Linked DNA regions of Homo sapiens: regions 2, 3 and 4 are each linked to region 1. Evidence: fine-mapped expression QTL. A gene starts in region 1. Each other region holds a variant in brackets. All regions are shown on one strand. Distances are from middle to middle. Region 1 holds the start of LINC00989 (long intergenic non-protein coding RNA 989). Region 2 overlaps LINC00989 (long intergenic non-protein coding RNA 989). Region 3 overlaps LINC00989 (long intergenic non-protein coding RNA 989). Region 4 overlaps LINC00989 (long intergenic non-protein coding RNA 989).

Region 1 (8,110 bases):
AATGTCCTAGATGCTATGATCCCTCCCATATGTGTAATCCTCCTGTTGATGTCAATCCAAAATACTATGCTCATGTTACGGTATCTCCTCTACATCCTTATTGTAAATTCACATTCTGAGTTAGAGCAGCTGAACATCTAGTCCTCAAACAGCTGACTCCAATTTTTCCTTCCCTGTCCATTCCTACCCTCACTGTCATAAGATGGGCACATTCTTTGCTCCCAAGAAAGATGCTTGTCCCTTGTTTTGTAAAACACAAAACAAATAAAGAAACAAAAGAAACTAAATAACACCTCCTTGAAGATAAGATATACTACAGAAATGTTGTTACATTGAACTAAATTGCATTCCACAGAAGATAGAAGAGGGTATCATGAATGTATCAAAACAACTAAGTTAAACATAAAATAAACTACAAATCTTTTTCATGCCTGAATCTATCTCCTTTTTTTCACTTTTCTCTCCTCACCAAAATACTGAATGGGAATGAAACAATTCAGATATCTAGATTTATAAATCTATAAAATTTTAAATTTTCTATCAGTACAAATAAATTAAAGCAAAGCAAATAATCGGCAGAATTTTTGAACATGTACTCTAGAAGTGTTTTGTTATTTCTATATCTGTACATTTTATAATTTATTGAGTTTCAATATTTTATTGAAAAATATATCATGATTCAATCCAGCAAAGTTGTAGACGGTGGCATGCCTCCAACATAGGACTAACTGATTAGTTTAAGCACATCAGAGACTGTATCTTCAGTTGTCCCTCAGTATCTGTGAGGGATTGTCCCAGGACATCTGTCCTACCCTGCGCTGCCCCTGCAGATTACAAAAACCAGTGATGCTTAAGTACCTTATATAAAATGGCATTGTATTTGCATATAACCAACTCACATTGTCCCCTATAATTTAAATTATCTCCAGGTTATTCATAAAATGTAATACAATGTAAATGCTATGTGAATAGTTGCTATACTGTATCATTTTTTGTTTTGTGTTAGTTTTACTGGTGTACTTTTTTTTCTGACATTTTCAAAGGCATGATTGATGGAAAACATGGATACAAAACCCATGGATATGAAGGACTGACTATAGACTTACAATGCTTGAGTATACTATAAACATAATAATGCTTCAGTTTAGAATGTTGATTTTAGCATCTATTTCCTAAGATGAGAAGAAAAAAATGTATCTTCCTTTGCTCTGAGTGGTTTCATCTTTTCTTTGACATTTTGATAGCAAAAAAGATTTTTAACTCAATTTAATAGTTGTAGGAATATGTCTACTAATAATTGTACTGATTTCTCCAGAACAAAATGAACTGTATATCCAACTCTCTTCAAACTGTCATGCTTATCTCAGTGTGTATGTGTCACTATAAGATGAGAAAGCCTGTCAACACCAACTTCTTCCTTCTAAACAAGAACACTAGGATGTTCATTTCTCATTGAAAATTTGGATTTCTGAGCTGTCTCCTTCCCTTAACTCCTACCCTCCAACACAGAACATGCCTGACATCAGACCCTTACTCCTGAGCCTTTTCCCACTTCATTCACCTGACAGCCTCCTCCACAACAGACATCTTATCAGACGTGACTGATTGCTATAATCTGTACTCTGGGCAGCCATTAAGCAAATTACCTGAATCATTGCAAGGATTAGTCTCATTAACACATGATTAGCATCAAATTAAAATAATGAGTGTTTAACTTCTGATGTCTTCCAGTTGTTTGAACAGCTTGATCAGCCACACCAGGCTGGCAGGGAGGTGGGGGTGTCAAAGAGCCACAGAAAAAAAGGGAGGCAGCACTGTGCAAGACATAGTACAGCTCACCAGTAGAATGAGGTAAGATCAGACTCAAACTGTCTGGATGAAAGGTTTCTTTCAAACAGCAAAGATGCCCGGTCCAAACAGAGGTGTCTCTCTCTCTCTCTCTCTCTCTCTCTCTCTCTCTCTTTCTCTCTCATTGGCACTGTACTCCTAACCATCCATCTGAATCAAGGCTTTACATACTAATGGTGCACAATCTCGCCCGCTCCACATCCTGGATATTTTATTTCCGCTGGGCTTCCCTGTCTCAGGAGCACAGAATGCAGCTTTTCTCTTTCCTTTTCAAAACTTTATCAGACTTAAGACCCCTAAAGTGCTGGGAGTATGGTAGACTGAAGATTAGAGCACAGATCCTCCCGAGTTCCCATATTTGTAGCTGGAAATGGCTGACCAAATATCAAAACAACAGGAAGTTTGCATCAGCTCTGGAAACTGTGAAGAATATCATCCACATATAGAAAGTTAAAATAATCTGCTAGATCCTACATAGACTGGTCCCAACTTACGATGGTTTGACTTATGGTTTTTTGACTTTAAGATGGGTTTATCGGTGTATTAAATGCGTTTAGACTAATGATACTTTTGACCTATGATGGATTCATCCAGATGTTACCCCATTGTAAGTCAAGGAGCATCTGTGCCCATGTCGAAGATTTGATGGAAGCCTAAAGGACCAACTCACTTTTGTCCTACCTGTGGAACATCAGCACTTATGGAAAGTAGGCGGGTAGCTTACAGTGACCCTTCCACTCCAAAACTTAGGGCACCTTATCTGTCTGGTGATGGTCAAGACAATCAGAGAGCCTGGACGAGCTCTTTTTGCCTGAGCTAGTGAATAAAATAAACAGCTGTTGTGATAAATTTCTCTATCATTCCCTTGAAAAAGATTAATATGAGGAGTGTAATGTTATGGAAGAAACAATCTAAGATCAGGAAAAAAATGTGAAGATAAAAATCATTGCTAATATAAACACCCACAGTTAGGTATTTCAGGAGAGGAAAACAACAAATCATTTCCTCTACTCATCTTAGGTTCTCCAGCAGAGGCCCTGTGAATTAGACTAGCCAAAGACAGATTAATTAGAGACAAATAGGCAGAAGTTTTCTCAGTGGCCTTTAACAAAAAAAAATAAAAATAAAAAAAAATTGTATTCCAAAGAGGCTTATTTTGAAGTGATATATTCCAGTACCCCTCAGAATACATTTCTGTCGTATGAAATAATCCCATGAACCATAAAGGAACAAAAAAACAGAATGTCTGTAGATCAGACTTTATTTGCAATATTAAATGCTAAGAAAAACAAAGGTTTACAGAGCTTTGGGCAGAAAAGATTGAGATCCAAGGCATTTTAGTTAGAAAAGCTCATATTTATATGCTAGAGCGACAGAAAGTTGTTTTTAGATACACTAGACTGAGAGGCAATGTCATATAAAATTCTTTGTGAAAAAAACTATTTGACTAGTCACTTAAGTCAACTAAGAAATAAATATAAATAACTCAGCAAATAGAATTCTTAGCTCTATAGAGTGATTAGCTTTAAAATTTCAAATGTAGTACTTACAAGATAAAAATACAAAATATTAAGCTAATAATTAATAATAACCTGGATCTGAAATCTGAGATTATATCAGCAAAACAGTGTGAAGGAAAAATAGTAATGTGAAAATTATGCCAAATGTAGCATCTGAGCTGGAGGGATGTGAATGATAATAGTTACTGTTTTACTCTGTTCATAGATGATGAGAGAAAAATAGACCCAAGTAAGTTTTAAAATGCTTAAAATTTAGAAAATTGAACTTTCTGTGTATCTGTATTAGTCAGGGTTCTCTAGAGGGACAGGACTAATAGGATAGATATATATATAAAGCAGAGTTTATTAAGGAGTATTGACTTACACAATCACAAGGTGAAGTCCCACAATAGGCCATCTGTAAGCTGAGGAGCAAGGAAGCCAGTCCAAGTCCCAAAACTTCAAAAGTGCAGCCTTCCGTCTGTGGCCAAAGGTCCAAGAGTCCAAAAGCTAAAGAACTTGGAGTCTGATATTCGAGGTCAGGAAGCATCTAGCATGGGAGAAAGATGAAGGCCAGAAGACTCAGCCAGTCTAGTCTTTCCAAATTTCTCTGCCTGATTTTATCCTAGTTGCACTGGCAGCTGATTAGATGGTGTCCCCCAAGATTGAGTATGGGTTTGTGTCTCCCAGCTCACTGATTCAAATGTTCATCTCCTTTGGTGACACCCTCACAGACACACCCAGGAACAATACTTTGCATCCTTCAATCCAATCAAGTTGACACTCAATATTAACCATCACGGAATCCTTTCCAAATCCCTAAAAGAAAAAATAATAATAATATAGTCAATATAATAAACATCAGCTAGAAAAGAAATAGGTGAGCAAAATAGAGAATCTCTGACAAGATCAGAAAGAATAATATAATTAGTGTAAAACGTTTTAGTAGTTCAATTAAAAACTAAAGTTTCTCAAATTAAAACATTATTTTAAAATCTTTACTTAATAGAAAAAGACCAAAAGTCAAATGTCAGAGAAGTAGTAAGAAATTTTTTAAATGGCAGAAATATATCATAAATACAAAGAAAAATAAGGAAATAATAGCAATCATAATGTAGAATAAAATATAATTCGAGATAAAATTGGTGAAGAATCACACCAGGAACATATCAGAAAAACCAAAAGAATTCACAGACCATTTGAAATAAGCGGCTTGCCACTGAAAACTCCATGAGACTGCCAAAAAACTGAGTGCCTGAAGTGTGAGAGGGGGAAATCCATCTCCAAACATACATCGGCCCTGGAGAACCTGAAAATCCAGAAGACGGGAGAAGAGTTTAACCTTACCTAGAGCTGAAATGAATTTAGAGAGCCCAGTGAAATAGAAAAGTAAAAGAAGTGGGAAAAGAACTGCAGGCACTCTTGTTCCCCAGGGAAGCCAAGGATAGCCATTTCTGAATTTATCTCACAGGGGTCCTTGAGGAGGGCAGCCAGTGGAATTGGGGAAGGTCCACAGGGAGAAGGAGACTTCCAGCTGAACTTTGTAATAATTTCCAAAGACGACAAATTTTCCTGGGCAGAGTCCAGGGGGTTGGGGTGTGGGGAACGGGAAGTACAGATAGGAGCACAGAAGCCGCAACAGGAAGGGAAGGGTGAGGACTGAAAGCCATGCTTGCTCTCTCAGCAGGGAGTCTTGTAGCCTGGGGCAGGATCTCAGCCCTGTGCACCAGAGGCCTGGGTATAAATTGGGCACTGTTGGCTGCTGGGGGAGTATGGCAGGAATGAGACTGGCCTTGCTGGTTTCATGGGAGCTGGGTAAGGCCTGTCACTGATGGCTTTCCACCACTTACCTGGCAACCTGTAGGAAGCAGCAGAGGCAGCCATAATCTCCCATGGAACATAACTCCATTGGCCTGAGACACACCCCATATCCCTCAAAGTGGCCACTGCAAGCCCAAGGAGAGTCTAGGCTGAGACCTGCCTAACCCTGCCCCCACCTGATGGTTTTCTCTACCCTTCCTGGTAACCAGAGACAAAAGATATAAACTTGTGGGAGCTCTATGGCCTCACCTATTACCTGAGACGACTGAATATTTACCCTGGCCAACTTAGGGCAAGCCTGTATCCCCCTTCTACTACCGCAGCTGATGCTCTCTTAAAAGTGCCACCTCCTGGCTGGAAGTCAACCAACTCAAGCCATTACAGCAACTTAGAACAATCCTACTCCAAGAAAGGAGAAAACACCACCTGTAACACCCTGGCTAACCAGAGGTCCTGAGTCTGTCCACATGACAGCTTCACTGCTAGCAAACCAGCATTCGAGAAAATCTGCACACTAAACAAACTACAACCAGCACTCTCACAGAGTCCACTTTGCTTCCCTGCTACCTCCACTGGGGCAGGTACTGGCATCCACAGCTGAGAGACCTGAAGACAGGTCTTCACAGGATCACATCACAGAAATCTTTGCAGACACTCCCCAATACCAGCCCAGAGCCCAGTAGCTCCACTGGGGGACTAGACACAGAAGAACAATAACAATCACTGCAGTTTTATTCTCAGGAAGCTCCATTTCTAGGGGAAGAAAAAGAACACCACATCAAGGGATCACCCCATAGGAAAAAAAAATCAGATTAGCAGCCCTTGAGTCCCAGATCTTTCCTCTGAAATAGTCTACCCAAATGAGAAGGAACCAGAAAAACAATTCTGATGATATGACAAAGCAAGATTCATTGACACCCCAAATGATCACACAAGCTCACCAGCAATAAAAAACAAACAAAAACAAACAAACAAAAAAAAAAACAAGGTAGTCAGGCAACAACTAGCAGGATGAATAGAACAGTACCTCACATCTCAATAATAACATCGAATGTAAAAGGCCTAAATGCTCCACTTAAAAGATACAAAATGACAGAATGGATAAGAATTCACCAGTCAAGTATCTGCGTCTTCAAGAGACTCACCTAACACATACAGACCCATATAAATGTAAGGTAAATGGATGGAAAAAGATATTCCATGCAAATGGACACCAAAAACAAGCAGAAGTAGCTATTCGTTTATCAGACAAAACCAACTTTAAAGCAACAACAATTTAAAAAGACAAAGAGGGACATTATAGAATAATAAAAGGACTAGTCCAACAGGAAAATATTACAATCCTCAATACATATGCACCTAAAACTGGAGCTTTAAATTTACAAAACAATTACTCCTAGAATTAAGAAATGAGATAAGAGGCAACACAATAATAGTGGGTGACTTCAATACTCCACTGACAGCACTAGACAGGTCATCAAAAACAAGTCAGACAATGGACTTAAACTATGCCCTAGAACAAATGGACTTAGCAGATATATTCAGAACATTCTACCAAACAACTGCAGAATATATGTTCTATTCATCAGCACATGGAACATTCTCCAAGGTAGATCATATGATAGGCACAAAACAAGCCTCAATAAATTTAAGAAAATCAAAATTATATTAATATGCTCTCAGACCACAGTGGAATAAAATTAAAAATCAACTCCAAAAGGAATCCTCAAACCATGCAAATACATTGAAATAAAATAATCTGCTCCTGAATTATATTTTGGTAAACAATGAAATTATAATGGAAATTTCAAAATTACTTGAACTGAATGATAGCAATAACACAACCTATGAAAACTTCTGTGATACAGCAAAAGCGATGTTAAAAGGAAGGTTCATAGCATTAAATGCCTACATCAAAAAGTCTGAAAGAACACATATAGATAGTCTAAGGTCACACTTCAAGGAACCAGAGAAATAAGATCAAACCAAACCCAAACCCAGCAGAAAAAAAAAAAAAAAAAAGAAATAACAAAGATCAGAGCAGAACTAAATGAAATTGAAACAAAAAAATACAAAAGATAAATAAAACAAAAAGCTGATTCTTTGAAAATATAAACAAAATTGATAGACCATTAGCAAGAATAACCAAGAAAAAATGGGAGGAGATCCAAATAAGCTCAACCAGAAACATAACGGGATATATTAAATCCAATAACACAGAAATACAAAAGATCATTCAAGTCTTCTATGAATACCTTTACACACACAAACTAGAAAACCTAGAGGAGATGGATAAATTCCTGGAAATATGCAAACCTCCAAGATTAAACCAGGAAGAAATACTCTGAACAGACAAACAACAAGCAGCAAGATTAAAATGGTTACAAAAAAACATTGCCAACAACAAAAAAAAAAGTCCAGGAACAGATGGAATCACAGCTGATTTCCATCAGACATTTAAAGAAGAATTGGTACAAATCCTATTGAAACTATTCCAAAAGCCAGAGAAAGAGGAAAGCCTCCCTGAATCATTCTATGAAGCCAGTATCACGCTAATACCAAAACCAGAAAAGAACATAACAACAACAACCAAAAAACTACAGACCGATATTCCTGACAAACATAGATGCAAAAATTCTCAACAAAATACAAGCTAACCAAATCCAACAGCATATCAAAAAGATAATCCACCATGATCAAGTGGGTTTCATACCAGGGATGCAGGGATGGTTTAACATCTGCAAGTCAATAAATGTGATACATCACATAAACACAATTAAAAACAAAAATCGTAAGATCATCTCAACAGAAAAATAAAAAGCATTTGACAAAATCCAGCATTCCTTTATGATTAAAACCCACAGCAAAACTGACATAGAAGGGACATACCTTAAGGTAATAAAAGTCATCTATGACAAACGTATAGCCATGTTATACTGATT
Region 2 (8,110 bases), 85 kb before region 1:
AATCCAGGAATGAGAGGACGTTAATTTTAATTACATCATTATATCTACTTTACTTATGTCTTTTTGTGTGCCTTTATTATTTGTTTGAATATTTCAGTCTGGATGAAATTCCATTCAATTGGCCAGTATAATGGAAAAAAAGCCTGAATTTAAATTTCATATCAATAAGTGTACTAAATATTTTCAGAGGAGTCTCATAAAATCAATATGAACCTATATTAAAATATTATGCACTTTTTTATTTGCATCAAGAATTTTGAGACTTTTGGAAGATAGAAGTAGCATCTGCATAGTAACTTTATACAGATATATATTTTAAATTTCTCCAAACTATTTTAAGACTCTAATACAGTGTTAACACAATTCTTTACGGTGATCAGACCTTAGATTATCAATTCAAGAATGAAAATCTGGAAAGCTGCCTAGGAGAATATAAAAAACATAGAAACCTGTCTATGAAAAGAATCCCATTTCTAGGTATATAAGTTTTAATGAATATTTATCACTGGGTTAATAGTCTTTTTCATTTTTTTTTAATTTTCAGGGAATCTTAAGGGAGATAAAATATTAAGAAACTAAAGGTTTCCTATTTGGAGAACAATAAGAACAACAACAAAATACAGTGTCTCATTTATTAATTGAAAAAGAAAAAATTAATTGAGATGGTGATTTTGTATATATGACATCAATAAATGTTACTTTATTGACTTAGGACAATGTAGCTTTGTCATTGACAGAGAGTGATAGCTTTGTAAGAGTAACTACTGTCCCAGTTTTACTTTCTTACTGTTAAAGTAGTAGACAGAAGAGAACCTTAAGATTAACATATCTTCTGGCAAAACACTTTCTAAGCCTTAGCATTTGGCACTGTTTTCCAAGTATGTTTCTGCCCAAGAAAATTCAAGAAAATCATTTATAAATTTCCTTTTTATATGTATAGTTTTATATACCACATTGCCTCATTTGATACTCAAAACAACCTATAGCATAGACAAAGAAGATATAATTATTTCAACTTTAGTGATGAGAAAATAATAAAATAAATTAGTATTTTTTCAAAATGTAGCATGTTGCAAGCACTGTGCTATGAGCATTCATCTGTAATTGATCTTATCTTCACAGCCAACTATAAGATTAATACTATTTTTAATTTTAGTAGCCAGAGGAAGAAACTGAGTTTTAGAGGTTTGGGAAGTTGTCCAAGGTCACATAGCTAGTGAGTGTTAAAAATGGGACCCAACCAGTTCTGTCTGATGCTAAATTCTATGTTCTTAACTTTTGTTCTTCTTACTGTACATGAAATGGCTTTGCAGAGTTCTTGTCAAAGAAGAGTATTTAGGAAGAGTTACAGAATATGGATATTGTAGCAATTGTGAATCACTTTGAAACATATGGCTACTAAATGGAAGAATTGGAATTGAATTCAGGTTTCTGACTCCAAATCATGGGACCCCAAGTCTTAATCTCTGTAGGGTACCCTACATACTGAAACACTTGAGTTAAACAGATGACCAAGTTTACAATCATCCATTAACTCCTTAAATCAGATGGAAAAGTAATTGCCAACTTTGAATTTTAAATTTTCATATCATTATATGATTATCTATGCTGACACCTAGAGTAGTTAAATTTATTTAGCACTGATGAGTACTCTATCTAGGATTTAAGGACAGTTGACAAAATTTCACTTGAACACTAAACCCGGAAGAGTCATGGCAATAATGATGTCTTAGGAGTATTTTTTATGTTACAGGCACTGAAGGTAATGATTTATCAACATTACCTTCTTTCTTTATTCTTAAAAGCATCTCCATTGTAAGTTTATTTTTTATATATTTGTCATGTTGTAAGTTTATTCTTTATATATTTAAATCTCAAGAGACATCAGGTTTTCAAGGGAACCAGTGTCCAGGAAATGAAATCAGGCTTCAAGAGTTAATAGAATGTCTAAGAGATTTCCAGAAGCAATATATGGAGTTTACAGCAGAATTTAGTGAGACCAAACTGGCTGTATGATTAAAAGGTATTCTGGTCATTCCTAGACTGGGAAGGTGACTGGAACTGAGACATGTTCAACCGAATGTCTCAGCCCAGGCCTTCTCTGGGCAGAATGCATTTCACCCCTGTGCTGGCTGTGCTCGCTAACCAGAACCATGTTTTCAGTCCAATGACCCCCTGAGACAGTATGCTTTCAAGGCCTTCGGCTACAAGGTTTGGAAAGTCCTCCACTTTGAAATATATTGCAAAAATTACACCATTATGAATAACAAAGAGAAAGCATTAGAACTCAATCCTATCACAAGACAAAATGTGCTGAAAACGTACATACAGGGTAACTGCCTGTTTTTATTCGGTTGCCAACTGTATGATATGAAAGAATCAGTTTGCTCACCTAGTGATTATATATGAAGAGGAGTAACAGCTTCCAAATTAAAATAATACTCTTCCTTTGGTGAGTGTACATGAGCATAATATTTCATGGAATTTTTTCCCCAGACAGTTAAATTAACTCATTGGAAATGTAGCATACTAAATGATTCCTTCCAAAAAGTAACATGTAATCATTTCTTTTTCAGGCTTGATTAAATTTCCTCTGCCTGTACAAATTTCATATCTGCGCCCAAATTTTATGTATCCATTTCTGATCATTGAACAGAGCACAGACCCTGCATGATCCATCTCTATTATTAGGCAAACTCAAGTAACAGCAGTTCTAGGGCATTGCACTGTAATTGGGGTTATGTTCTAAGGAATGCTATCTACATAGGCTATGTGAATGGCACATACTCCCCAACAATCATACAACAGGATCTCATTTTTATCTAGTAATAGGAGAGCAGTCTAACTAAAGCAGGTCTTTACTGTAAGTGAAATGCATAGCCAACTCAACCTTTCCCATCCCTGCCCCTGATGACCTTCTCAGTAATGTAGAGAAACCAGATATCCTAAATGATCTTATCTCACCTTATCCTTGATCTCACCACCTAATATTCTAATCCCAGCACTGCATGCTAATAATGTAAGTTGTCCATCAATACACTGAATTATTGTTATTCAGGTTTAATATACAGGGCATTCCTATGCAGAGCTGGAGACCAGAGCAGAATCTAAAGCAGATTCCAGTAGACAAGCTAGAATGAAAGGGAGATTCCAGTGATGGTGGTAAATTAAACCAGATTGGGAGCATTTACATTCAGAGAGTCACCACTTGTTCCACCAGCAACATAGAGACATGCTTAAACTATGAGGACAGGCACAGTAGCCGCCGCTGTGGCAATCCTGCCAGCCCTCCTTCTGCGGTCACTTCCCCAGTCACTGCACTGACCAGCTCTTCAGCCACAAGGGGAAGGAACTGGGGATACCACAGACCATTGCCAGA[A/G]CTTTGTTGTGGAATCATAGACAAGTGACAGAAATAAAAACTAAATGTGAAACTCTATAGCACTTATTATAGTTGATTATTGCCTACTCCTTTAGTTTGAAAGCATTACAAGCTATGTAGCAAGTTTATGAAACTCTTTAGCTGGCATATAAACTGATTTGGCATTTATTTTTACTCAAATATGTGTGAAAAACATTAGAGAAAAATCAGCAAAAAAGGATTTTCTCTCTTAAACAAAATTAAAATTAGGGATATTAGAAATTAGCCATATCCAAAAATCATTGTAGTTTAATACTCAGAAATAATGACTGATACTTTTATCCACACCTAACTTTCAGTGAACTCATAGTAAGAAATAAATGAAACCTCGGCGAAGCTATTAGGACATGTCATTTGAGAAAGCAATACCTGACCTTTGGGATTATATGAGATACTCCAGTGTCTTTGTAATACAGTCCCCTTCTTCTGCTTAACTTTGTTTGAGTACAATTTGTCATTTGCAAACAAAAAGAATACCAACCGACAAACTGGAATAGTGAGATTTCCCATGCAGATTTCTAAGGTTTGGGTCATTTTTTTGAAAAGGGATTGGCACACAGTAGGCATTTCATAAATGGTGGCTGTTAATGGCAGAGTAAATTGATCATCCTAGGTTGACATTATGTGTTTTATCCTCAATGAAATAAAGGCAATGGCTATTTTGTAATGTTGGAACCACAGAAAGAGTGACAGATTGGTGAGGGATGAGGACATTGGATGTAGAAACAAAATTAATGCTGGTGGTCAAAAGATGGCAGATGTTAAAGCTGTGTCACTGTCATGTCCCAGTCAGCTATGCTGCCATGTTAATTCCAGGTGTAGCTGTTTAACAACACACAGTGCCTTCAACTACGGTTAGGGTTAAAGTTATGTACAGAATGAGACTCAAACTGAGTTTAATTCTAAAAAAATTTGATTTAATAAAGGCTCTCTTGTAAAATTTATATATAAAACTAATAAACGTTTAAGCTAACTTCCAAGAAAAATGTTAATTCTTTGTTAAAAATTGGAATAATTGGCATTCTAATAATAAACAATCTATTAAAAAACTCGTTTAGGGTAAGAGAGACTATCCCATAATAGGATTAGGCCAGTCATGTTGAAAATAAGCGAACAATATTTCTATTTATTTATTTATTGAGATAGGATCTCACTCTGTCGCCCAGGCTGCAGTGCAATGGTGTGATCTCGGCTCACTGCAACCTCCACCTCCTGGGCTAAAACCATCCTCCCCCCTCCACCCCCCAAGTAGCTGAGACTACAGGCATGCACCACCACACCTGGGTGTATTTTTTGTAGAGCTGGGATTTTGGCATGTTGCCCAAGCTGGTCTTGGACTCCTGGACTCAAGCGATCTTCCTGCCTCAGCCTCCCAAAGTGCTAGGATTATATGTGTGAGCCAGTGCACCCAGCCATATTTTACTTTTATTCATTGATTTAAATTAATGAAAAGTTGAACTATAATTATTTTATAAAGACATGAGGTTAAAAATCAGGTATCTAAACTCAAAAGCAACTAAATATTAATCTTGTCTGTACACAGGACTTAATAATATGATTTAACTATGCATATGAAAATATAGCACATACAAACCTGTCCACATGAATGAGTTCAAATTGTCACCCCTAAAACTGTCTTTATGCTCTGAGAAAAAAAAAGTATAAAATAAGAAATACACGCTTAAGGGAAAAAATAGTGTGTGATAAACCATGATAATAGATAAACGCGGTTATGATCTCTGTCACACATTCTCATCACAGTCATGTAGACATTTGTGGTTTAATTGTGTTACAATCATCTTTATATTAAAAGGTTGAAGACTGAGTGTAGATATTTTTAATCAAAGAATTTTACCTTAAATAGAAGGAATGACATATACTTGTATGCACATGATGACTGACATCTCTAGTTCCTTTCCGAAAATAAAGCATCTGCTGTCATAATTTGAAAAATAAATAAGCAAAATGTCTGCATTTTGGAGGATACATGAGCAACGCACTGAAAGCATCCCTCTATAGTTTACATCTAGTACAATTTCCAATCAGTAGAGGGCTCCCTCGTCTGTGCAAGGCCCACAGTAAAAATGCACAGTCTATACATGCAGCAGTCACACATCATGTGCGTGTTCGCGCACACACACACACACACTCTGTCTCTCTCTCACACACACCATCTAGATTAATAAAGCTGTCAATTTTCATTGTTTTCAAATCACCTTTAATATCAGTTGAGTTTAAAGCTTAGGGGAAGGAACACACAGGCAGCACCCATTGGCAATATGTTAGAACATTCTCTACCTAAAAATACAGATAGGTGTTTACAAGTTTTCTTCATTTCGCTGTGACATTCCTCAGCTCTGATGTGCATTTGGCTGCTTTCCTGAATTCACACATCTCTCTGCTCATGTGCTTGTGCATTTTGCAGAAGTGTCACTACCCAAGCTTTGCAAAATAACGAACTCAATCTTCTAAGTGACTTTGCTGAGGCTATGTCTTTATTATGCCCTCCAAAACTTGAGAGTCAAAAATAAAAATTAGAAAAATGAAGCAACTAGTAATGTTTGCTTTTGACTGAAGTCACTGAGTCCAGCTGTATTTTTTCCCACTGAAAAATAGATGAAGACATCCTAACTGGGTTGAGTTTTATTTGGGATTTTTTTCCCCTCTCCTTGGCCCGTAGGCTAGCTGATTCACTGATGCACAGTGAAAATGCCAAGAATATGCAAACCTCTCTGGGGTAGAAATTTGTAACAGAAAGGGAATTTCTGGCGGTGTAAAAGCAGGGCTGGAATAATCTCAGACTGTACCCCCAGGCCAGTTTTCGTGATACAGTTAAAAACTGGTTGGGCCGCCGGCAGAATCAACTGTTTAAACATCTTGCTGATTGTTTATGGTAGTTGCCCAATAGATGCTTAAAAACATTGGTTTTCATGGACTTCTGGTGGAAACCTCTTATACCCAGCTGATCCTAGGTTATTATTCATATATTTGCTCAGTAGCCAGATCCAAGAATTCATCTGGAAACTCTCAAAGGAGAGAGAAGAGAAAGAGTCTATGATTTTTCAATTCTAGAATCACCATGTCTGAGAAATTTTTCTTGCTCACTCTTTAATGCTCCCCAGAAGGCCCTCTGCTTAATAATCTCACCAGTTTCTTTATATGTCATATATTTCCATTGTCTACTCTAGCCTGCAGTTTAAAATGGGGACATTTTGAAAGGAATGTGCTGCTTTTTGCCCTTTATCCCACTTGCTCTTGCTGAAGTTCAACCTTGAAATGCCTCATCCCATTAGCTATATGCTTCCGGGCATTTCCAGAAGGCATCTCACATATGCTTGAAACAGGTCAGTCAGCTCTCAGGTGACAACTACGAGATACAACAACAACTTTGGTTCAGGATTAGGAAGCCTGATTATGCCACAGATCTGAACCTTGTTGAGCAATCCAAAACTCCTTCCAGTGAAGCAGATATTTTGATCTCCTCTCCAAAGCTTGTGTTGATCTCTCCATTGGTTTCAAAACTGGAGTGGAAGAAAGAAGCATGATTAATCCTAACTATCTCGGCTCTCCAATCTCAACAGCTATGTACTATGATGTTCATAAAGAAACTAAGATTCAGAGAGGTTAAGCAACATGCAAAAATCATCCATTAGTAAGCGACAGCCCCAGAATTCAAATCCACGCTTTCTAAGTCTTAATCCTGTGCTTGTTTCACGGCTCCTGTAACATTAGATAAGAAGCTTACCCTTGCTCTGCAAGGGTTCATATAAAGATTAGGATACTTCTGCCTATAAAACATGAGATAAAAATATAATGGCCTCATAGACTGAAACGATACACAATTCTAAATAAAAATCAATTCTTTATTTTGATATTCAAAGTCACCTACTCTTTATGACCACTACCCTCATTGCAAATGCCCCTATTCTGATGTGCTTTTCCATTAAATAAGATTTACACCATCCTTCTTTGGAGCCTTTGCTCATGCAGACCTTCTCACATTCCCTCTATTTTATTTCTCATTCATCCAATTCTCATTCATGCTTCAGAACCTTGCCTCTAACACCTTTCACCAATTAGCTCAGGTTTTCCTCTGACAGCTATTGTTGTAAACCTCTCAATTTGCATTTATGCATTCTTCATGTTATTTGGGAATTTTGCAAGTGGATATACAATTTTCACATGTCTGGATAGTAATCTCTTGAGATTATGAGTAGTCTTCACTATATATGTAGATATTAAGTGAGCTTATTTATATCAGATATAGACCATACAATCTCATCACTTATAGATGCTTTTTCACTGTATTGATAGATTAATGCTCCCCTTTAAACATACCTCTAAACTACTCAAACTCTATAAATGTATCTCCATATATCCCTGCAATTCTCTTTTTGAAACTAGAACAAATTAAGGGAATTGTTTCTAAAAATTTGAGCTTGAGGTAGAAAAGAGGAAGATGAAAAAATAATAAGTAACATTTTAAACTTTTTCTTACTCTGTTCTATATTCAGAAAATGTTTTAATGATACAATTTTGACATCAGTAGCAAGACAAATTTCCTTTCTTTTAATCACCAAGTCAAAGAATATTTCCATTGAGCTGGTTTCAATGAACAGAGAACTCATATATTTCCACTGACTAACAAAGGAATATTGACATCAAACATATATATTTAATTATGGATGAATA
Region 3 (8,110 bases), 26 kb before region 1:
AATGGTGATTTGTCTACTGGATGGACTTCAAAATTATGAAAGTAGAAGTGGTTGTTTATTGGTTTTATAGAAATATCATCAGAGAAGATGAGAAATTGCAGGCTCTGGAGAATACACACACACACACATTCAGTCAGTCAAGGAACAGAGGGTCAAGTAGAATGAACGGTACCATCCAGATTCCCTATCATCTATAGAGCATTATCAGACATGGCTTTTCTTAGCAGGGCCGAGGAAAGAATATTTACAAGATCACAGCTACTCAAAACCCAACATGCCAACTTCTAAATATACGCCGTTGGAAAGTATAGGAGTGGAGAAAAATACAAGAGCTTAAAAATGTTGGTTTTTGATGCTTTTGAACCAATTCTCATGGCGATTTACACCATAGCCTGCAAGACATATCTCAGGCATTTCTTGTGCGGAATAAGACTTTCCCAACAATTAGCATAATAGCTTCAAACCACACATGATGGGAACAACTTTATCTTGATTGTTCTTCCTTATAAGACATCAAAGGTGGAACAGAGCAGAATAGTCACGACACAGATGAAAAAAAAAAAAAACATAATCATCAGTGCTTGTTTTTACCATCCTCCACCTAAATGTTTTCTTACACTGTTTTCTTTCTGCCTTCTCCCCTCTCCAGGCTCTGTTATCCTCCCTACACTCCAACTATACTACTCTAATTTTGCATTCTGAATGTCTTTATGCTTTGGTTCTAAATCTCCTAAAACAGGTCCTGATATTTCATATTTAGATGTGTATTTATATAGTCTCATTTTTTTACTTACCAGTGTTCACACACACACACACACGCACACACAAGATACAGAAAAATGAGAAGAAGGAATATCTCAATTAAATCATGATTAGCAACTTTTCAAAGACAAGGTTGTAAATGTCAGATCCAGGGAAGTTGACATAATAAAGTGTTCCTAATTTTAGTTTCCATTGAAGGTGAGCGGTCTGTGGCTAAAGATTAACATCCCTCTCTAATCAGAAATATCTGAGACACTTTTTATTCAGGTATGCCTAGTCCTTTTTCTGTAGATGATTCTAGTATAGCTTTATATTTCATGAAAGTCAGTCTATGAAACCTATTTCTGAACCCACAGTAGTAGTCCCTTAGATAGGACTTCTCTTCACCCAATCACCAATACATACACAATTCCAGCATTCTTTAATTCAAAATCTGGATTTTTTTCATCATGTGACTCCAGTGAAACTGGTGTTTTACAATAATCTACCCAAATTATATGTTCAATACCATTCACATACATCTGAATGATCTGTTCTATAACCATGAAGGATATCCGGAATGTATTGTTACAGAGAAGCAAGACAAAATCAAAATACTACAAGCCCTATCACCCCTTAAGGCCCAATTTTAGGCACATTAAAGGTTTTGTATGTATTTAAAATATTCATTATTCTTTATTAAATCACTTTCAGAATTCCTTATTTTCCCGTAGCTTCTGGGAACCAGTTGCATAAAACTTAGCACAAAATTCTTGTACAAATTTACCCTTGTGCCTTTACTGCCAATTATTACATGTCCTGTTGACATCCTAAACCAGACATGCCATTTAAATAGTAAGCTATCATAAGAAATATACAGACTTTTATCTTAATATAATGTCATCTATATGTTGCTGTGAACCTGGATTTGAAAATATAATAGGATGGTCATTCTAAGGCAAGAGCGAGAGGGAAGTATAAGGTTTTTACAGGTACCTTCAAAAGCCTAATTCAAGCTTAAATGTGGTGACTGACAAGTGTTTATTTTATTCTTTAACTGAAAGCTATTCTGGGGTTTATTTTGTCATTTTAGGGGTCTTCTTTTTGTTAATTAAACCATCCTTTTGGAGAGTTTTTAAAATATTTTTTTCTTTGTCAGCTATTGGTTATTAAATTGTAGTCCTCAGCTTATGACTGCAGTAACAGATGTCTCCTAGTTGGAGTGAGGTCAGAAGGTTCCTTTTGAATGAATGTAAGGAAAATACATCAGTACAATAGAGCAAAAGGTATGTATGTCCCAGACAGCTGAAGAAGTCTGCTCAGGATACAAAGTAGAGATAGGGCATTAGTGCACTTAATCACTTTTGTGTTTGGCCTAAAATAATTTAATGATTAACTTAGAAACCAGGGAAACAGTCATAGAAAGTTGACAGTTTCAGTATGATATTGGCTTGGGTTTGTCATATATAGCTCTTATTATTTTGAGATACCTCCCATCAATACCTAATTTATTGAAAGTTTTTAGTATGAAGCGTTGTTGAATTTTGTCGAAGGTCTTTTCTGCATCTATTGAGATAATCATGTGGTTTTTGTCTTTGGTTCTGTTTATATGTTGGATTACATCTATTGATTTGCGTATGTTGAACCAGCCTTGCATCCCAGGGATGAAGCCCACTTGATCATGGTGGATAAGCTTTCTGATGTGCTGCTGGATTCGGTTTGCCAGTATTTTATTGAGGATATTTGCATCAATGTTCATCAAGGATATTGGTCTAAAATTCTCTTTTTTGGTTGTGTCTCTGCCAGGCTTTGGTATCAGGATGATGCTGGCCTCATAAAATGAGTTAAGGAGGATTGTCTCTTTTTCTATTGATTGCAATGGTTTCAGAAGGAATGGTACCAGCTCCTGTTTGTACCTCTGGTAGAATTTGGCTGTGAATCCATCTGGTCCTGGACTTTTTCTGGTTGGTAAGTTACTGATTCTTGCCTCAATTTCAGAGCCTGTTATTGGTCTATTCAGAGATTCAACTTCTTCCTGGTTTAGTCTTGGGAGGATGTATGTGTCGAGGAATTTATCCATTTCTTCTAGATTTTCTAGTTTATTTGCGTAGAGGTGTTTATAGTATTCTCTGATGGTAGTTTGTATTTCTGTGGAATCGGTGGTGATATCGCCTTTATCATTTTTTATTGTGTCTATTTGATTCTTCTCTCTTTTCTTCTTTATTAGTCTTGCTAGTGGTCCATCAGTTTTGTTGATCTTTTTAAAAAAAAAAAAACAGCTCCTGGATTCATTAATTTTTTGAAGGGTTTTTTGTGTCTCTATCTCCTTCAGTTCTACTCTGATCCTAGTTATTTCTTGCCTTCTGCTAGCTTTTGAATGTGTTTGCTCTTGCTTTTCTAGTTCTTTTACTTGTGATGTTAGGTTGTCAATTTTAGATCTTTCCTGCTTTCTCTTATGGGCATTTAGTGCTACAAATTTCCCTCTACACACTGCTTTGAATGTGTCCCGGAGATTCTCGTATGTTGTGTCTTTGTTCTCATTGGTTTGAAACAACATCTTTATTTCTGCCTTCATTTCATTATTTACCCAGTAGTCATTCAGGAGCACGTTGTTCAGTTTCCATATAGTTGAGTGATTTTGAGTGAGTTTCTTAATCCTGAGTTCTAGTTTGATTGCACTGTGGTCTGAGAGACAGTTTGTTATAATTTCTGTTCTTTTACATTTGCTGAGGAGTGCTTTACTTCCAACTATGTGGTCAGTTTTGGAATAGGTGTGGTGTGGTGCTGAAAAGAATGTATATTCTGTTGATTTGGGGTGGAGAGTTCTGTAGATGTCTATTAGGTCCAC[T/G]TGGTGCAGAGCTGAGTTCAACTCCTGTACATCCTTGTTAACTTTCTGTCTCGTTGATCTGTCTAATGTTGACAGTGGGGTGTTAAAGTCTCCCATTATTATTATGTGGGAGTCTAAGTCTCCTTGTAGGTCACTAAGGACTTGCTTTATGAATCTGGATGCTCCTGTATTGGGTGCATATATATTTGGGATAGTTAGCTCTTCTTGTTGAATTGATCCCTTTACCATTATGTAATGGCCTTCTTTGTCTCTTTTGATCTTTGTTGGTTTACAGTCTGTTTTATCAGAGACTAGGATTGCAACCGTTGCCTTTTTTTGTTTTCCATTTGCTTGGTAGATCTTCCTCCATCCCCTTATTTTGAGCCTATGTGTGTCTCTGAATGTGAGATGGGTTTCCTGAATACAGCACACTGATGGGTCTTGAGTCTTTATCCAGTTTGCCAGTTACTGAATGGGAAAAACTGGAAGCATTCCCTTTGAAAACGGGCACAAGACAGGGATGCCCTCTCTCACCACTCCTATTCAACATAGTGTTGGAAGTTCTGGCCAGGGCAATCAGGCAGGAGAAGGAAATAAAGGGTATTCAATTAGGAAAAGAGGAAGTCAAATTGTCCCTGTTTGCAGATGACATGATTGTATATGTAGAAAACCCCATTGTATCAGCCCAAAATCTCCTCAAGCTGATAAGCAACTTCAGCAAAGTCTCAGGATACAAAATCGATGTACAAAAATCACAAGCATTCTTATACACCAATAACAGACAAACAGAGAGCCAAATCATGAGTGAACTCCCATTCACAATTGCTTCAAAGAGAATAAAATACCTAGGAATCCAGCTTACGAGGGATGTGAAGGACCTCTTCAAGGAGAACTACAAACCATTGCTCAATGAAATAAAAGAGGATACAAACAAATGGAAGAACATTCCATGCTCATGGGTAGGAAGAATCAATATCGTGAAAATGGCCATACTGCCCAAGGTAATTTACAGATTCAATGCCATCCCCATCAAGCTACCAATGACTTTATTCACAGAATTGGAAAATACTACTTTAAAGTTCCTATGGAACCAAAAAAGAGCCCACGTTGCCAAGTCAATCCTAAGCCAAAAGAACAAAACTGGAGGCATCACGTTACCTGACTTCAAACTATACTACAAGGCTACAGTAACCAAAACAGCATGGTACTGGTACCAAAACAGAGATATAGACCAATGGAACAGAACAGAGCCCTCAGAAATAATGCCACATATCTACAACCATCTGATCTTTGACAAAAGTGACAAAAACAAGCAATGGGGAAAGGATTCCCTATTTAATAAATGGTGCTGGGAAAACTGGCTAGCCATATGTAGAAAGCTGAAACTGGATCCCTTCCTTACACCTTATACTAAAATTAATTCAAGATGGATTAAAAACTTAAATGTTAGACCTAAAACCATAAAAACCCTGGAAGAAAACCTAGGCAATACCATTCAGGACATAGGCATGGGCAAGGACTTCATGTCTAAAACACAAAAAGCAATGGCAACAAAAGCCAAAATTGACAAATGGGATCTCATTAAACTAAAGAGCTTCTGCACAGCAAAAGAAACTACCATCAGAGTGAACAGGCAACCTACAGAATGGGAGAAAATTTTTGCAATCTACTTATCTGACAAAGGGCTAATATCCAGAATCTACAATGAACTCAGACAAATGTACAAGAAAATAACAAACAACCCCATCAAAAAGTGGGTGAAGGATATGAACAGACACTTCTCAAAAGAAGACATTTATGCAGCCAAAAAACACATGAAAAAATGCTCATCATCACTGGCCATCAGAGAAATGCAAATCAAAACCACCATGAGATACCATCTCACACCAGTTAGAATGGCGATCATTAAAAAGTCAGGAAACAACAGGTGCTGGAGAGGATGTGGAGAAATAGGGACACTTTTACACTGTTGGTGGGACTGTAAACTAGTTCAACCATTGTGGAAGTCAGTGTGGCAATTCCTCAGGGATCTAGAACTAGAAATATCATTTGACCCAGCCATCCCACTACTGGGTATATAACCAAAGGATTATAAATCATGCTGCTATAAAGACACGTGCACACATATGTTTATAGCGGCACTATTCATGATAGCAAGGACTTGCAACCAACCTAAATGTCCAACAACGATAGACTGGATTAAGAAAATGTGGCACATATACATATACATATAGCTTCATGGAATACTATGCAGCCATAAAAAATGATGAGTTCATGTCCTTTGTAGGGACATGGATGAAACTGGAAACCATCATTCTCAGCAAACTATCGCAAGGACAAAAAAACCAAACACCGCATGTTCTCACTCATAGGTGGGAATTGAACAATGAGAACACATGGACACAGGAAGGGGAACATCACACACCGGGGACTGTTGTGGGGTGGGGGGAGTGGGGAGGGATAGCATTAAGAGATATACCTAATGCTAAATGATGAGTTAAATGGGTGCAGCACACCAACATGGCACATGTATACATATGTAACAAACCTGCAAGTTGTGCACATGTACTCTAAAATTAAAGTATAATAATAATAAAATACAAAAAAAAGAAAGTTGACAGTTTCATCCATGTAATTTTCTCTTAAAATGTATTTCACTCATGCCAGCAAATAATACTAGGTAAAGCACTGTCCTTTCACATCCCTTAGAAACTGTTGCTGTAAAATTATTTATTAGCAAAATTGAAACCATCACTTCAGATTTCACTTATACATTTTCACATAGCTCACCTTCAGTGTGATCCTATATTTATGCCTGTCTAAGCTCAATATCTTTCAATATTTACTTATTCAATTTAACATTTACTGAGTACCTTTTTGTGCCATAAAACATACTGGAACGTGGCATCTGCCTTGTGTCTTGAGGATGCTATATAAAGAGATAGATAAATATAGATGTAGATGGGAGCATTGATTTATAAAAATAAATGCAGAAATGAATATGTAAAAATAAATATAATAAGGTGATAATACAGTGTGGATATTTAGAGAGTACAGAGCTTATTTTGAAATGCTTTTTATTTTAATATATTTATCTTATTATTTAACAACTATTTATTTGTAAGCCTGGCATTACTGTTGTCATAATTCTTACATATTATAGAAACTTCAAAACAGAAGTGATTCCTAGATTCTGTTCAGTGTTAGAAATTGTTATTAGATTGAAGACCAATTCATGTCTTATGGAACAGCTCCATTTTCAGAAACGCACAAAAAATGTCTACCAATCAAATCCCAAAGAAGATCCATCATTCATTTATCTTGAAAAAATAAAACTTGCTCAGTTTAAGCTCTTTTATACTATACTTTTTAATTCTCTAATTCCAGATTATTTCTATTATTTTCTTCTCCAAATATAGTTTTTTTAATTTACTTTTTTAGTTGTTTTGGAAATAGCTGTGTTTTCTTTTCGACAATCTGAAAGCTGATTCAGGTGCTTTACTCTCAAATGAAAGGTCAGCATTTCTAGATTTCCCTCATGCAATTTTCTAACATTGTTACCTATTTTGTTTCAGTGTTAGGAGTTCTCTGACAAAGAATTTTAAAAACCAACCAATCCTAGGACATAGTGCGAAGGGAAAGAGGAGAGAGGCTAACTCTCTCTACCATTTGCAATGAAATCTCTGCTAAAGCTTCCTAGAAGTTGGTATGCCCAGTCCATCAGGAGTCATATTGTCTGATACTCTCTTAACTGAAATCTCGACTTCTTTATTACTTTGTGAAGCTCCTACAGCCACGTTAGATGAATTATCTGAAAAGCTATTAATAGGTTCATTCTGAATCCACCAAATAATCACATGTCCTGTCACAAGTCCATCAACGCTGGACTCATTGAAAATTCAAATCGTAAATTGTTTGCCAGGGAAATATGTGATCTATTTTCAGTGTGTGCTGGTGTTCAGTAAGATGCTGCAAAACTAGAAATAGAACACCTATTTTTAAATTGAACATAATATTTTCTTGAGCCACCACTAGATTCAATGCACTGCAAACAATGCAAATATGAATAAGACAAGCCTAACTCTCAAAGGTGGAGATTTCGAACTGATAGCACAGGATGTGTTTTTAAGACATGTGTTAAACAATCCTGTACATAATAAATGGTAGAGAATTTTGGTAAAGGGAGAATGAAGGGCTCATGGGTTCAGGGTAAAAAGGCAATTAAAGAAAGCTTCAAACATAGGTGACATTTGGGTTTGTCTTCAGGGAAAGACAGTGAGTGGAGAATATTTCAAGCAGCAGAAATCAAATGAGCAATAAAAGTAGAAAAGTGCAAATGCCTGATAAACATTTACTGAATGAAATGGTCCTAGCAACACTCAAATCTTTTTTCTTTTTTCTTTTTTTCCTTTTGGCAATGGTAAGGATTTCCTCATCTTAAACTCTGAATTTTGGGGATGTTGAGTGTATTTTATCACTTTTTATAACTGATTTCCACAGATAAAGTGGTTGTTTCCATATCTATCCATCTGCTAATCAAGG
Region 4 (8,110 bases), 63 kb before region 1:
CACACCCAGCTAATTTTTTGTATTTTTAGTAGAGATGGGGTTTCATCATGTTGGCCAGGCTAGTCTCAAACTCTTGACCTCAGGTGATCTGCCTGCCTCAGCCTTCCAAAGTGCAGGGATTACAGGCGTGAGCCACCACGTACAGCCCATGACTTTCTTTAGGATGAACTCCTCCTTTAATAGACATAAATTATTCTCTAATCACATTAAATCCCTCATTTTACTAAATCCCCCATCAGCACACAAACATACTATAATATTTTATATCAAGAGAGAGTCAGGCCTCTGAGCCCAAGCCAAGCCATCACATCCCCTGTGACTTGCCGGTATATGCCCTGATGGCCTGAAGTAACTGAAGAATCACAAAAGAAGTGAATATGCCCTGCCCCACCTTAACTGATGACATTCCACCACAAAAGAAGTGTAAATGACTGGTCCTTGCCTTAAGTGATGACATTACCTTGTGAAAGTCCTTTTCCTAGCTCATCCTGGCTCAAAAAGCTCCCCCACTGAGCATCTTGCGACCCCCACTCCTGCCTGCCAGAGAACAAACCCCCTTTGACTGTAATTTTCCTTTACCTACCCAAATCCTATAAAACGGCCCCACCCCTATCTCCCTTCACTGACTCTCTTTTCAGACTCAGCCCGCCTGCACCCAGGTGAAATAAACAGCCATGTTGCTCACACAAAGCCTGTTTGGTGGTCTCTTCACACGGATGCGCATGAAATTTGGTGCCGTGACTCGGATCAGGGGACCTCCCTTGGGAGCTCAATCCCCTGTACTCCTGTTCTTTGCTCCGTGAGAAAGATCCACCTATGACCTCAGGTCCTCAGACTGACCAGCCCAAGGAACATCTCACCAATTTTAAATCAGGTAAGCGGCCTCTTCTTACTCTCTTCTCCAACCTCTCTCACTGTCCCTCAACCACTTTCTCCTTTCCACTCTTTAATCTCTCTCTTCTCTTAATTTCAATAACTTTCATTTTCTGATAGAGACAAAGGAGACACGTTTTATCCATGGACCCAAAACTCCGGCGCTGGTCACGGACTGGGAAGGCAGCCTTCCCTTGGTGTTTAATAATTGCAGGGACGCCTCTCTGATTATACACTGACGTTTCAAGGGTGTCAGACCACGCAGGGACGCCTGCCTTGGTCCTTCACCCTTAGTGGCAAGTCCCGCTTTCCTGGGGCAGGGGCAAGTACCCCAACCCCTTCTCCTTCACCCTTAGCAGCAAGTCCTGCTTTTCTAGGGGGCAAGAACCCCCAATCCCTTATTTCCACGCCCCAACCTCTTATCTCTGTGCCCCAATCCCTTATTTCCGCACCCCGACCTCTTATCTCTGTGCCCCAATCCCTTATTTCCACGCCCCAACCTCGTATCTCTGCACCCCAATCCCTTATTTCCATGCCCCGACCTCTTATCTCTGTGCCCCAACCCCTTTCCCCACTTTTCTGGAAGGTAAGATCCCCCGAACCCCTTCCCTCTGTTTCTCTACTCTCTTTTCTCTAGGCTTGCTTCCTTCACTATGGGCAACCTTCCACCCTCCATTCCTCCTCCTACTCCCTTGGCCTGTGTTCTCAAAAACTTAAAACCTCTTCAACTCACACCTGACCTAAAACTTAAATGCCTTATTTTCTTCTGCAATGCCACTTGACCCCAATACAAACTCGACAGTAGTTCCAAATAGCCAGAAAATGGCACTTTGAATTTTTCCATCCTGCAAGATCTAAATAATTCTTGTCATAAAATAGGCAAACGGTCTGAGGTGGCTGACGTCCAGGCATTCTTTTACACATCAGTCCCTTCCTAGTCTCTGTGCCCAGTGCAACTCGTCCCAAATCTTCCTTCTTTCCCTCCCACCTGTCCCCTCAGTACCAACCCCAAGCGTCGTTGAGTCTTTCTAATCTTCCTTTTCTACAGACCCATCTGACCTCTCCCTTCCTCCCCAGGCTGCTCCTCGCCAGGCCGAGCTAGGTCCCAATTCTTCCTCAGCCTCTGCTCCTCCACCCTATAATCCTTTTATCACCTCCCCTCCTCACACCTGGTCCGGATTACAGTTTCGTTCCGTGACTAGCCCTCCCCCTCCTGCCCAGCAATTTACTCTTAAAAAGGTGGCTGGAGCTAAAGGCATAGAGTCAAGGTTAATGCTCCTTTTTCCTTATCCCAAATCAGAAGCGTTTAGGCTCTTTTTCATCAAATATAAAAATCCAGCCCAGTTCATGACTTGTTTGGCAGCAACCCTGAGACGCTTCACAGCCCTAGACCCTAAAAGTTCAAAAGGCCGTCTTATTCTCAAAATACATTTTATTACCCAATCTGCTCCCAACATTAAATAAAACTCCAAAAATTAAATTCCGGCCCTCAAACCCCACAACAGGATTTAATTAACCTCGCCTTCAGGCATACAATAATAGAAAAAAGTTGCAATTCCTTGCCTCCACTGTGAGACAAACCCCAGCCACATCTCCAGCACACAAGAACTTCAAAACGCCTGAACCGCAGTGGCCAGGCGTTCCTCCAGAACCTCCTCCCACAGGAGCTTGCTACACATGCCAGAAATCTGGCCACTGGGCCAAGGAATGCCCGCAGCCCGGGATTCTTCCTAAGCCACGTCCCAGCTCTGTGGGACCCCACCGAAAATCGGACTGTTCAACTCACCTGGCAGCCACTCCCAGAGCCCCTGTAACTCTGGCCCAAGGCTCTCTGACTGACTCCTTCTCAGATCTTCTCGGCTTAGCGGCTGAAGACTGACACTGCCCGATAGCCTCGGAAGCCCCCTAGACCATCACGGACGCCAAGCTTCGGGTAACTCTCACAGTGGAAGGTAAGCCCATCCCCTTCTTAATCAATACGGAGGCTACTCACTCCACATTACCTTCTTTTCAAGGGCCTGTTTCCCTTGCCTCCATAACTGTTGTGGGTATTGATGGCCAGGCTTCTAAACCTCTTAAAACTCCCCAACTCTGGTGCCAACTTAGACAATACTCTTTTAAGCACTCCTTTTTAGTTATCCCCACCTGCCCAGTTTTCTTATTAGGCTGAGACACTTTAACTAAATTACCTGCTTCCCTGACTATTCCTGGACTACAGCTATATCTCATTGCCGCCCTTCTTCCCAATCCAAAGCCTCCTTTGCGTTCTCCTCTTGTATCCCCCCACCTTAACCCACAAGTATAAGATACCTCTACTCCCTCCTTGGCGACCAATCATGCACCCCTTACCATCTCATTAAAACCTAATCACCCTTACCCCACTCAACGCCAATATCCCATCCCGCAGCACACTTTAAAAAGATTAAAGCCTGTTATCACTCGCCTGCTACAGCATGGCCTTTTAAAGCCTATAAACTCTCCCTACAATTCCCCCATTTTACCTGTCCTAAAACCAGAGAAGCCTTACAAGTTAGTTCAGGATCTGCGCCTTATCAACCAAATTGTTTTGCCTATCCACCCCGTGGTGCCAAACCCATATACTCTCCTATCCTCAATACCTGCCTCTACAACCCATTATTCTGTTCTGGATCTCAAACATGCTTTCTTTACTATTCCTTTGCACCCTTAATCCCAGCCTCTCTTCGCTTTCACTTGGACTGACCCTGACACCCATCAAGCTCAGCAAATTACCTAGGCTGTACTGCCGCAAAGCTTCACAGACAGCCCCCATTACTTCAATCAAGCCCAAATTTCTTCCTCAACTGTTACCTATCTTGGCATAATTCTCATAAAAACACACGTGCTCTCCCTGCCAATCGTGTCTGACTGACCCCTCAAACCCCAGCACCTTCTACAAAACAACAACTCCTTTCCTTCCTAGGCATGGTTAGCGCGGTCAGAATTCTTACACAAGAGCCAGGCCCACACCCTGTAGCCTTTCTGTCCAAACTTGACCTTACTGTTTTAGCCTAGCCCTCATGTCTGCGTGCAGTGGCTGCCGCTGCTTTAATACTTTTAGAGGCCCTCAAAATCACAAACTATGCTCAACTCACTCTCTACAGTTCTCATAACTTCCAAAATCTATTTTCTTCCTCATACCTGATGCATATACTTTCTGCTTCCCGGCTCCTTCAGCTGTACTCACTCTTTGTTGAGTCTCCCACAATTACCGTTGTTCCTGGCCCAGACTTCAATCCGGCCTCCCACATTATTCCTGATACCACACCTGACCCCCATG[A/G]CTGTATCCCTCTGATCCACCTGACATTCACCCCATTTCCCCAAATTTCCTTCTTTTCTGTTCCTCACCCTGATCATGCTTGATTTATTGATGGCGGTTCCACCCAGGCCTAATCGCCACACACCAGTAAAGGCAGGTTATACTATAGCACAAGCCACTAGCCCGCCTCTTAGAACCTCTCATTTCCTTTCCATAGTAGAAATCTATCCTCAAGGAAATAACTTCTCAGTGTTCCATCTGCTATTCTACTACTCCTCAGGTATTCTTCAGGCCCCTTCCCTTCTCTACACATCAAGCTCGAGGATTTGCCCCACCCAGGACTGGCAAATTAGCTTTACTCAACATGCCCTGAGTCAGATAACTAAAATACCTCTTAGTCTAGGTAGATACTTTCACTGGATAGGTAGAGGCCTTTCCTACAGGGTCTGAGAAGGCCACCGCAGTCATTTCTTCCGTTCTGTTAGACTTAATTCCTCAGTTTAGCCTTCCCACCTCTATACAGTCTGATAACAGATGAGCCTTTATTAGTCAAATCAGCCAAGCAGTTTTTCAGGCTCTTAGTATTCAGTGAAACCTTTATTTCCCTTACGGTCCTCCATCTTCAAGAAAAGTAGAATGGACTGAAGGTCTTTTAAAAACACACCTCACCAAGCTCAGCCACCAAAAAGGACTGGACAATACTTTTATCACTTTCCCTTCTCAGAATTCAGGCCTGTCCTCAGAATGCTACAGGGTACAGCCCATTTAAGCTCCTGTATAGAAGACGCTCCTTTTCATTAGGCCCCAGTCTCATTCCAGACACCAGACCAACTTGGACTGTGCCCCAGAAAACTTGTCATCCCTACTATCTTCTGTCTAGTCATACTCCTATTCACCATTCTCAACTACTCATACATGCCCTGCTCTTGTTTACACTGCCAGTTTACACTGTTTTTCCAAGCCATCACAGCTGATATCTCCTGGTGCTATCCCCAAACTGCCACTCTTAACTCTTAAATAAATAATCTTTGCTGGCAGGACTATGCTGAATCTCCTTAGGCAGTCTCTAATCAGATATCCTGAGTCATCCCAATTCTTAGACCTTTTATACCTGTTTTTCTCCTTCTGTCATTCCATTTAGTTTCTCAATTCATCCAAAACCGTATCCAGGCCATCATCAATCATTCTATATGACAAATGTTTCTTCTAACATCCCCACAATATCACCCCTTACCACAAGACCTCCCTTCAGCTTAATCTCTCCCACTCTAGGTTCCCACGCCGCCCCTAATCCCGCTTGAAGCAGCCCTGAGAAACATCGCCCATTCTCTCTCCATACCACCCCCCAAAAATTTTCGCCGCCCCAGCACTTCAACACTATTTTGTTTTATTTTTCTTATTAATATAAGAAGGCAGGAATGTCAGGCCTCTGAGCCCAAGCCAAGCCATCGCATCCCCTGTGACTTGCATGTATACGCCCAGATGGCCTGAAGTAACTGAAGAATCACAAAAGAAGTGAATATGCCCTGCCCCACCTTAACTGATGACATTCCACCATGAAAGAAGTGAAAATGGCCGGTCCTTGCCTTAAGTGATGACATTACCTTGTGAAAGTCCTTTTCCTAGCTCATCCTGGCTCAAAAAGCACCCCCACTGAGCACCTTGGGACCCCCACTCCTGCCCGCCAGAGAACAAACTCCCTTTGACTGTAATTTTCCTTTACCTACCCAAATCCTATAAAACGGCCCCACCCTTATCTCCCTTCGCTGACTCTCTTTTCGGACTCAGCCCACCTGCACCCAGGTGAAATAGCTATATTGCTCACACAAAGCCTGTTTGGTGGTTTCTTCACACGGACGCGCATGAAAGAAAAGAAAGAGAGAAAGTGAAAGAAAGAGAGGAAGGAAGGATGGAAGGAAGGAAGGTAAGAAAGAAGGAAGGAAGGAGGGAGTGAGGGAGGGAGGGACAGAGGGAGGAAGGGAGGGAGGAAGGGAGAGAGGGAGGGAGGGAAATACTCTTCAACTTCATATTCCTCTTCAACCACTATAGCATATCTCTGCTTCCATTTATGGAAAAGCTTCAAAATAGTTGTGTGTACTCATTGTCTCCATTTCCTCTCCTTTTTTCACTCTGGAACCCACCAAAATTAGGCTTTTGTTCTCATCATTCCAACGAAAAGCTCTGGTCAAAGTCCCTGCAATGTCCATTTTGATAAATCAAGTCCTGCATTCATAATTTTTATCTTTAATTCAACCTATCTGTGCCTTCCACACAGTTGATCACTTCTTCTTGTAGTACCCTGTTCATTTGGCTTCCAGGACACTATTCTCCTTGTTCCTCTTTCATCTTATTTACTGTACCTGGTTATTTTACTTTTCTGGTCTCCTATCATCTTATAATAATGAAATTTTCCAGGGCTTAATCATTAGACCTCTTTCCTCTTTTTGGCAAAACCCACTGACTTTCATTTCACCCTATGGATGTGAATACTATGCCTATACTGACACTTGCAAACATTCATATTTCCATTCAGTACCCTTCCTTGAACTCCAGATTCTTACTTTCAACTAGTCACTTTACCTCTCCTCTTAGATATCTAATATATAACTCAAATGTAACAGCTGCAAAGGTGACTTCATTTATTTTCTTCTTCCTTCCAAAACGATTTTGTTTTTCCGAATCAGTGACAACGACTTCCTTTAAATTGCTCAAGTCAAATTTCTTGGGGCCATTTTCACTTTTCTCTTTCTCTCATACTCTAAACTGTGAAGGAAAAAAATGCTCTGGAGTGATTCATCAGGCAAGGAAAACTATTTGGTCCCAGAACTTTGGGAGGCTGAGGTGGGAGTATCACTTGAGCCCAGAAGTTCAAGAGCAGCCTGGGCAACAGAGTGGGACCCTGTCTCTTCAGAAAGAAAGAGAAAAAACAAACTAGCCAGGCATGGTGGCATTCACCTGTGGTGCCAGATACTTGGGAGGCTGTGATGGGAGGGAGGTTGAGGCTATAGTATTCATGTTCATGGCACTGCCTTCCAGCCTGGGTTCAGAGCTAGGCCCCATCTCCAAAAAAGAAAAAGAAAAACTTTACTCAAAATTATTGCAATAAGGATCGAGTCCATTGCAAAAGGAGAGATAGGTTGAAACAAAAAGTAGGAGAGATTTTAAGCTCAGAGGTGAGATAGTGCAAAAGTACTGGAGAAAGTTAGCCAGGAGGTTGGTCAATGCCAATAGACCATCTGTGTTTGCTAATTGTCATTTATTGCCCCCCTTCCCTTTCACAGAGACTGGGAGATAAGGGCCCTGTGTTTCTAGCTTATTACATTTAAAAGAAAAGGTTTCCAGGTCTTTTGGAGAGACATTCCTTGGTTGTAGAAAATTTACATTTCAAAGAAACAGAGAAGGTATTTAAGATTGCAAAATTTCTAAAGGAAATGCTCAAAGAAAAGGGAGGTCAAGGGCCCATACTCATAAAAAAACCTGTCTAAAGTTAAGTCAAGATGAAGGGAAGTCAAGATCATCTTGGTCAATATACAATCAATCACATATCTATCCACAAAATTCACTTTTTACAGGTCTTTGCTCAAAGGTCACATGACTAGGGAGTTTTCTTGACCTCCCTTTATAAAATAGCAATCTCCCTCACATTTTTCCACTACACATGCATACCTGTCCATCTTATCACCCTCAAACTGTGGCATTTATTTATTTAGTTCATTTTTTCTACTTTATAAATTTTTATTTTATTTTAGATTGAGGGAGTATATGTGCAGATTTGTTACATGGATGTTTTGCATAATGGGGGTTTGGAGTTCTGTTGTACTCATCACCCAAATAGTTACCATTGTACCCAACAGACAATTTTTCAACCCTCATGTCTATCCCACCTTGCCTGCTTTTGGAGTCCCCAGCATGTATTGTTTCCATCATTACGTTCATGTGCACCTAGTTGTTAGCTCCCAC

Evidence for each region.
Region 2: its variant is fine-mapped to the expression of LINC00989 in whole blood (TOPMed, PIP above 0.99).
Region 3: its variant is fine-mapped to the expression of LINC00989 in whole blood (GTEx, PIP above 0.99).
Region 4: its variant is fine-mapped to the expression of LINC00989 in unexposed skin (GTEx, PIP 0.93).

What each region holds. Positions count from the first base shown.
Region 1 is chr4:79,489,208-79,497,317 of GRCh38, reverse strand. It overlaps LINC00989 (long intergenic non-protein coding RNA 989), which reads right to left and starts at 4,725. Exons shown (of 4, transcript NR_038826.1): 1 at 4,544-4,725; 2 at 3,733-4,166.
Region 2 is chr4:79,573,970-79,582,079 of GRCh38, reverse strand. It overlaps LINC00989 (long intergenic non-protein coding RNA 989), which reads right to left. Exons shown (of 4, transcript NR_038826.1): 4 at 5,620-6,939. The region is part of intron 1 of LOC107986294 (a long non-coding RNA gene); the gene reads right to left. Among named protein-coding and RNA genes, the nearest start is that of LINC00989, 85 kb to the right of the region's middle. The variant A/G (reference allele first, on the strand shown) is at 3,380.
Region 3 is chr4:79,515,280-79,523,389 of GRCh38, reverse strand. All of the region lies in intron 3 of LINC00989 (long intergenic non-protein coding RNA 989), which reads right to left. Among named protein-coding and RNA genes, the nearest start is that of LINC00989, 27 kb to the right of the region's middle. The variant T/G (reference allele first, on the strand shown) is at 3,590.
Region 4 is chr4:79,551,876-79,559,985 of GRCh38, reverse strand. All of the region lies in intron 3 of LINC00989 (long intergenic non-protein coding RNA 989), which reads right to left. Among named protein-coding and RNA genes, the nearest start is that of LINC00989, 63 kb to the right of the region's middle. RefSeq lists enhancers at 1-457, 458-1,455. The variant A/G (reference allele first, on the strand shown) is at 4,172.